Linked DNA regions of Homo sapiens. The protein of the gene in region 2 purifies or fractionates together with the protein of the main gene of each other region. This does not show direct contact. Each region holds a gene or a part of one and is shown on either strand. Other genes may lie near its edges.

Evidence for each region. The genes of interacting proteins can lie anywhere in the genome.
Region 1: the proteins of BTD (region 2) and IDS fractionate together in Homo sapiens (co-fractionation; one large-scale study listed by BioGRID). This does not show direct contact.

The regions. Positions count from the first base shown.
Region 1 is NC_000023.11:149,484,420-149,488,502, forward strand, and holds part of IDS (iduronate 2-sulfatase isoform a preproprotein), read right to left. Parts: intron 2,895-4,083; coding exon of another isoform or gene 2,869-2,894; exon of another isoform or gene 2,712-2,868; intron 2,680-2,711; coding exon 2,506-2,679; intron 1-2,505. UniProt on the Homo sapiens protein: Lysosomal enzyme involved in the degradation pathway of dermatan sulfate and heparan sulfate.
Region 2 is NC_000003.12:15,604,535-15,608,617, reverse strand, and holds part of BTD (biotinidase isoform 1 precursor), read right to left. Parts: intron 2,178-4,083; exon of another isoform or gene 688-2,177; intron 1-687. UniProt on the Homo sapiens protein: Catalytic release of biotin from biocytin, the product of biotin-dependent carboxylases degradation.

The DNA of each region.
Region 1 (4,083 bases), on a different chromosome or scaffold from region 2:
CAAGTGATTCTCCTGCCTCAGCCTCCTGAGTAGCTGGGATTACAGGCATGCACCGCCACACCCAGCTAATTTTTGTATTTTTAGTAGAGATGGGGTTTCTCCTTGTTGGCCAGGATGGTCTTGATCTCCTGACCTCGTGATCCGCCCACCTTGGCCTCCCAAAGTGCTGGGATTACTGGCGTGAGCCACCACGCCCAGCCTTTCACAGCTTTTGTTGTTGTTTTTTATTAATAGCCATCCTAGTGGGTATGAAGTAGTATTTCATTGCGGTTCATCCATATTTAAAGTCTAAATACTGTACTTTATATTGATTCCTGTTAAAATTGCAATTGGATTTGCACTACCATTCTGGCCCTTCTGGATCTTTAAGACAGTGCTTTATCATGCTTGATTTCATTTTCTAGACACTTAATTTTTAAGTAAAATAAAAAGAAAACAAGTAAAGAAAGTTGAAAAAGGTACCTTTACAATGGCAAGATCTGGCTGATGCTAGCTAGCTCTTCAACCGAGTGTTCAAACTTACAATACTAGTAACGCTGGCCATGAAGTGCCCCCACCATGTGACACAATGGGAGAATACAACAGCCCATGTAGCACACGTGTCAAAAATGTTACCCTGAATGTAGTCATGTGGAAGCAATCAGATAAATCCAGGCTGTGGGACACTGTTATAGGACAACTGGCCTGGATACTTATAAAAAGATGAGGTCAGGGAGATAATGGGGCCAGAACATGTAAGGCCACTGTGACGACTTTTACTCAGATCAAGAAGGGTACATAAGAGGCTCCTGTGCCGGGCTGTGACATGACTTGACTTGGGTTTTAATGGAATCACTGTGGCTGCTCTGAGGAGGAAAACCTCCAAGGGATCCAGGGCACAAGCAAGGGGACCATTTAGCAAGCTCTTGCAGTACTTCAGCACAAGACAGTGGCAGTCTGGTCCAAGACAGTGGCAGGCGAAGTGGTGGGAAGTGGTACACAGAGTCTGAATGGAGTGTGACAGGCTTTCTCATAGACTGAATATTGCATATGGAGTAAGAGAAGAACAGGGGTTGAGATTATTCCATGATTTTTTGGCATGAGTGACTATTCTCATTTCTTGAGGACAAGAAGAGTGTTGAAGGAAAAGCTGAAGATGAAAGATGTGAAGTCCAGCTTTGGATATGTTAGGCTGGCTAAGTGGGAAAGACTATTGGAAACAAAAGTCTGAAGTTCAGGGAAAAGACACAGCTAGAGATAAAATTTGGAAATAAACTGAAAGGCCGTGCAGTTACATCAATTTCTAAATTGCTGAACACTTCCCAACAAAAGTTTCAGAAAAGATTCTCAACCAATCAGAAGATCTTTCCCAGCAAACAAAGGGCTAAAATCATGCCTTGAAACTGTTTAACCTTTCTATCAATGACATGAAAGAAGACAGGACATGCAGTGCACAAAAATCAAAGTGCAAAAAATAAAATTGGGTAGTATAAAGCAAGCTCAGAAAGATCCAGAAAGGCCCGAATGATGGTCCAGAACCAAGACAAATTTAAACAGGAATCAATATACAGTACAAGATTTAGATGTTAAGGATGGATTAAATGCTTAAGTCCAGAAAGGGGGCAATCTGGTTTAGCATAGTTCATAGAAGAGGCACTCCAAAAAGAGCAAACGTCATACGTCATTTCAGAGACAGTGTACAACCTGTCCCTGAAATGCACTGGGCAGATCAAGTCAGGATAGAACTCACAAGAACCCATACAGGTTGCCCACACATCCAGGAGGGGTATCTGGTCCAACTGGTATTCTGGAAGTGCTTTCTCAAACTGAAACTTTTTGGAAGACAGAGACCAGGACAACCACGCGTCTAAACACTACCTTGTGACGAATGGTTGAAGGGCTGGGGATTTCAGCCTAGAGAAGAGAAGATATTGGTGGATGGACAGGGTCGGGGGCATCAGTGCTGTTTTCAAAGCTTTGAAGGACTGGCACATGGAAGTCAAAGTAAACTTGCCCTTCACTGCTGGGGAGGGCAGAGTAGAATCACCTGGTAGATTTTACAGATCTAGTGGTTCACTAGATTGATGAGCTGTCAAAATGGAAAATGTGCCCCCCACAAAGAAGGCTGAGTCCCTACCAAAAGTGCGCATCGAGGGAAAGGATTCTCCTCGTCTGTTACGGGGGCAGCCCCTTACTCTAAGCTCTGGAGCAGGCTCTTGTAGACTGTACCACAGCCCTCCCCATCTTGGGGATGCACCTGTTCCTTTGTCCATCATCATCCCACAAGGCTCCTTGTGGACAGGGGCCATACTTGTCAATTCTGGTTCTGTCACTCTTTCCCCACCCAGAGTATGGGAGATGTTCAGAAAGCGTGTGCTGACCACAAAATGTTGAGAAGAAATTCCAACACAAGGCAGGAAGGGGGGGTCTGTGTAACCCCCAAAGCCTATGATTCAATAAAGTGGTTCACATATAAACTAAAGGTGATCTTACTGTCAAGCAATATCATTTCAGCATATTTTATACCTGGCTCCATCAACTGTGAGGCGGAATCAAAAGGGTCGAGGTAAGGGAAAAGCTTCTCGCCTGCCTCCGGAAGTGAAGCCGTCCTTCCAGGAACATAGAATATCAGGGGAACATGGGTAGCAACATCAAAATTGCTGTATTTGGCCCATTCTCCATGTTCACCTAGAGCCCACCCTAGTTCATAAAAAGCACAGAATGACAGAAAATGAATAATCATCATACCACAGCTTGTTTATTTTAGATACCATTTCATTTCCTGTTGTAAAAACCAGAGGAAGTAGAAACTCATCACCTAGAAGAAAAATATTCACTTGGAATTACCACAGAAAGGGTTATTTCAACTGAATGCTGCTTTATTCAAAATCAGGTATTTGTCCTCATGAGGAAACCTTTAAAAAAGAAAAAATAATTAAATTCCCAAACTCAAATATCTTAACAAACTACTAGCAACATATACCTAACGTAGGACTCTGTGGCGGTTCCCACACATGCGTTCCTCCCCTGCTAAGACATGCTCATTCTTGACAGGCTGGGAACCCTGAAAGCTGTAGTGTCACCACTGCCCTGTCCTGTGCCTACCTGTCTTTTGACTCATGCCCTACGAGGTCAGGTTTTCAGTTTGGGGTATGTGCCACCTAACAGTGAGCTGTGGAACTGCAACACACTCGGCAAATTCAAAAAAGACAAGGACATCTTCGTTGATTTTTAAGACATACCATAGATAGGGTAAACCAAAACCTCTCATTTCAGATCCTTAACCTCAATTAAAAACAACCCTTCATGCCTATTTAAAACATCCCTTGCAAAAGATGGTTTGAATATTCCAAGTTGGAAATACCCAGTCTTTTAAAGTTACAGCACCCTTTTTGATACAAAAAATGTGCATGACAGAAATTGTACAGTGAGTAGTGTTATAAAAATAACCAAACACACCAAAAGCTGCCACGGGTAAATTTGAGAAAGTGTTGAAATGTACCGCACAGCATGAGACCTTGCTGGCTCCGTCTAATAGATGACGCTGGGGCTGCAAATGATGTCCCAGCCTTCCAGGGCCTGTGGTCTCCAGAACAGGGCTGAAACCTGTTCTGAGTTGACAGTGCTTTCCCAAGGAGACCCCAAGTTGAGAGGACCCTCTTACCCACTCATCAATAATCAAAGCAGACTTGATGCCCATCAGAGATGCCCAATGATTCTGGTGAGCCGTTCCTCCCTCTGGCTGTCAGTACTGGGGAGTATGGTGGGGACTTTCAGATAGCTCAGTGGAGCTCAGAAAGAGAGGGAGTTCCCCCTGACACCCGCCCCAGTCAGTAAGCCCCGGGGCCTGAGGGGCATCCCCACTGCTCGACCTCTCCACTCTCTCGGGGAGGACGAGGCAGCCTTGACCCACGAGGGCTGATGAATGGGTAGGTTATCGGCAGGCTCCTAGGCCACCAGCTTAGAGGTCACATTGTCCCTTTTAGATTCAGTGTGGCGGGAATCTAAAAGGTCAAGGATCGAGAAGCCTGCAGGATGGCAACGTGAGGGAACCTGGCAGTGCGACCTCAGGAATCCACTCCCGGAACTCTGACTGGGGTGCCT
Region 2 (4,083 bases):
ATTTTTGTATTTTTAGTAGAGACGGGGTTTCACCATGTTGGCCAGGATGGTGTCAATCTACTGACCTCGTGATCCGCCTGCCTTGGCCTCCCAAAGTGTTGGGATTACAGGTGTGAGCCACCGCACTGACCTATATTTTGATTTCTAAGCCATTTGAGATAAATCTCTTACATCCTCATAGCACAACATACAGTTGTCACTATTTCCTGGTGCATTTTACACAAGTAAACGTCCTCGTCAGTGATGTAATGACTGCTGCTGTCAAACTATCTCAAATGTTCTTAAAAAAACACAAAAAACAAAAAAACCCAAAACCCATAATGGATGAACACAAAGCTAAAACAAGGGAACAACATTCCTTCTGTTTTCTTCCCACAGCACTCCCTTCTCCAGTTCCAGGTCTCCCTGGCATTAAAATGTAGAGTAAAGGCACAGGGCTTGCCAGCCCAAGCCAAAGGCAGGAATCCAAGCTTTCTCTAGGTCACAGGGTACCTGGGAAAACTCCCAGTGTCTGTCAGCTGGCATCAGGCACTGGGAGTTTTTATTATCAAGCTTTTTTATTAATGAGTTATTACTGATATCAATCCTCAGCTCAATAATAAAGTTGCTTTTCACTGGGTTTGTTTCAAGCCTGTTGCTGAGCTTTGGTACTCTGAAGTCCACAGATTTAATGAGAAGCAAAGAAAATCAATTTAACCCACTTTATTCAAAGAACCTTTTCATTACATTATTTTACTTCCTATGTTGACATATTTCCTACAACACATTTCCGGCTGTACAGTTTTTGCATTGCTATAAAAAATAGTGTTCTACATAGACTCCTTTTTTTGTTGTTTCCGCCTTTTTATTTTTAAGATATTCAGTATCAGTTTTATCTTATGTCAGGCAATTTCATTTTTAGCTTCTATAATGTATCACAAATGACCTTGATTCATTTCCTCATTTGATAAGTAAACATTTCACATTTTGATAATACATTTGTGAGAATACTTAATCACAAGTTCAGCTAGTGTTATGCTTTAAAATAATCACAAGGATTTTTAGTGTCCTTGTTAGTATACGGAAATTAAAATGCACTATCCCAATTTGGGGGCTTTAAGAGTTACTGCCTGTAGAAGCTGCAGTCTTTAGAGAATAAATTGTCTCCAGGCACTATATTTGCAATTCTTACTAAATTACCTGGTTGCCTGGATATCTCCCTGGCCCAGAGAGAAGAAAACCACCAATTTGCTCTTTTTCATAATCTCAAATCCAGAACCTACAAATAGAGTAATTGGTATGCAGATTCTTTGATGACTAGCTCTGCTCTTTGGAGAGCATGTTATGAGTATTTTAGCCTTTTCTTTTAAAAAGGTTAGATTTATTCATCCTTTGACTTCCTCCCACCAATCAGTAAATAAGCAAAAACAAGTAACATTTCAGTAAAATATCCAACAAATAAAATTTTATACCTATTGCCAATGAAAGTAATAAAGAATGTGGATAGTCCTTACGGAGTATGCACAGAGGGCCTCTGAGAAATTACAAAAGAATCCTGGAATCCTGTCAGGGGTATCCAATCTTTTGGCTTCCCTGGGCCACACTGGAAAAAGAAGAATTGTCTTGGGCCATACATAAAATACACTAACACAAATGATAGCTGATGAGCTAAAAAAAAAAAAAAAAACCAAAAACAACAACAAAAAAAAGGGTCGGTGCATAAATCTCATAATGTTTTAAGAAAGTTTATGAATTTGTGTTGGGCCGCATTCAAAGCCATCCTGGGCCAAGGGTTGGACAAGCTGGCTGTAATTACAATTGGATTGCAAAGGACTTGCTCCTTGGCCCTGTTAATCCAGTGAGCCAGAACTCAAATCATTTCTTTCTGCTGAATCATCAAGCCCAAGTTAACAATTGAACACTGCATCCTGAACTGAAAGGTGCAAAGGTGAAAGCAAGTTTAAACAATCCCAATGATTTTTCTCTTTGTTAAATGGCAGAAAACAACCAGTTGAGTATTTATCCTTTTGCAAAACCAGTTAACTGAATTCCAGTTATTTGTTCCAATTCAGAGTTCAGTTTTCATTGCACTTCATACTGAGTGGTTCTGTCACTGTTTCTTTTGACACAGAAGTAGGCCCAGTGAACTGACTACCATCGATACAGCTTGTTCTGTCAATGTCAAATCAGTCTTGAACCTGTCAATCCAAATTAATCAACAGTATTACTTTGGTGACAGGCAATCATATGTTTAATTAGTAACTCATGCTTCTGGCATGAAAACAGAGCTAGGGTTCTCAACTCTGGGCTGCAAAGCAAAATCAGGTAGCAGCTTTTAAAAAATACAGGTGCCTGACTTGTCCTAAGATGCTGATTCAGGAGATCTGGGGTAGGGCCCAAGTAACTATTTGGAAAAAGCTTTCCAAGTGACTCTAATGCAACAGGGGCAGAGACTGTCACAAAAGGTACTGATATAAATAATACATGATGGAAGGGGAAGTCTGTACTTCTTCAACAAGGACAGGAGGCATTGTGTCAAGGACTACTCAAAGTGCAAAGATGATTTCACATCTTTTTTTTTTTTTTTTTTTTTTTTGAGACAGGGTCTCGCTCTGTCACCCAGGCTAGAGTACAGTGGTGCAATCTTGGTTTACTGCAACATCTACCTCCCTGGCTCACACGATTCTCCCACCTCAGTCTCCCGAATAGCTGGGATTACAGGCATGTGCCACCACACCTGGATAATTTTTGTATTTTAGCAGAGATGGGGTTTCACCACATTGGCCAGGCTGGCCTCGAACTCCTGACCTCAGATGATCTGCCCACCTCGGCCTCCCAAAGTGCTGGGATTACAGGCATGAGCCATTGTGCCCAGCCCGTTTCACATCTTTCTGGAATGTCAATTTTACTTGACAGGTAAGCAGTTTAAAATGTCATTTTTATTTTGGGTGGTGATTTCATAGATATATATATATATAACTGTCAAAACTCATCTAACATTTAAAATCTGGACATTGAATTGTATCTTTATTATATCTCAATAAATGTCATTTTAAAATTAAAATATGGATACATTCTAGAGTATAATACAAAATCTGCATTTTCTTTTTAGATACACTCTGAGACTTGAAAGAAGTCACCCTCTGAGATGGGTCCCTGATATGGTTTGGTTATGTCCCCACTCAAATCTCATCTTGAATTATAGCTCCCATAATCCCTACATATCATGAGCGGTACCTGGTGGGAGGTAACTGAATCATTGGGGAGGGTTTTTCCCATGCTGTTCTTGTGATAGCAAATAAGTCTCAAGCTGTGATGGTTTTATAAATGGGAGTTTCCCTGCACACACTCTCTTGCCTGTCGCCATGTAAGACGTGCCTTTGCTCCTCCTTCATCTTCCACCATGATTGTGACGTCTCTCCAGCCATGTGGAACTGTGAATCTATTAAACCTCTTTTTCTTTATAAATTACCCAGTTTTGAGTATTTCTTCATAGCAGTATGAAAAGGGACTAACACAGAAAATTGGTAATGCAGAGAGTGGGGCACTACTGTAAAGACAGCCGAAACTGTGGAAATAACTTTGGAACTGGGTAACTGGCAGAAGTTGGAACAGTTTGGAGGGCTCAGAAGAAGATAGGAAAATGTGGGAAAGTCTGGAACTTCCTAGAGACTTGGAGGGCTCAGAAGACAGGAAAATGTGGGAAAGTTTGGAACCTCCTAGAGACTTATTGAATGGCTTTGACCAAAATGCTGATAGTGATATGGACAATAAAATTCAGGCTGAAGTGGTTTCTGATGGAGATGAGGAACTTATTCAGAGTTGGAGTAAAGGTCACTCTTGCTATGCAAAGAGACTAGTGGCATTTTGCCCCTGTCCTAGAGATCTGTGGAACTTTGAACTTGAGAGAGATGATTTAGGGTATCTGGCAGAAGAAATTTCTAAATGGCAAAGTGTTCCAGAGGAAGCAGAGCATACAAATTTGAAAAATCTGCAGACTGACGATGCAGTAGAAAATAAAAACCCATTTTCTAGGGAGAAATTCAAGCTGGCAGCAGAAATTTGCATAGGTAATAAGAAGCTAACTATTAATCACCAAGACAA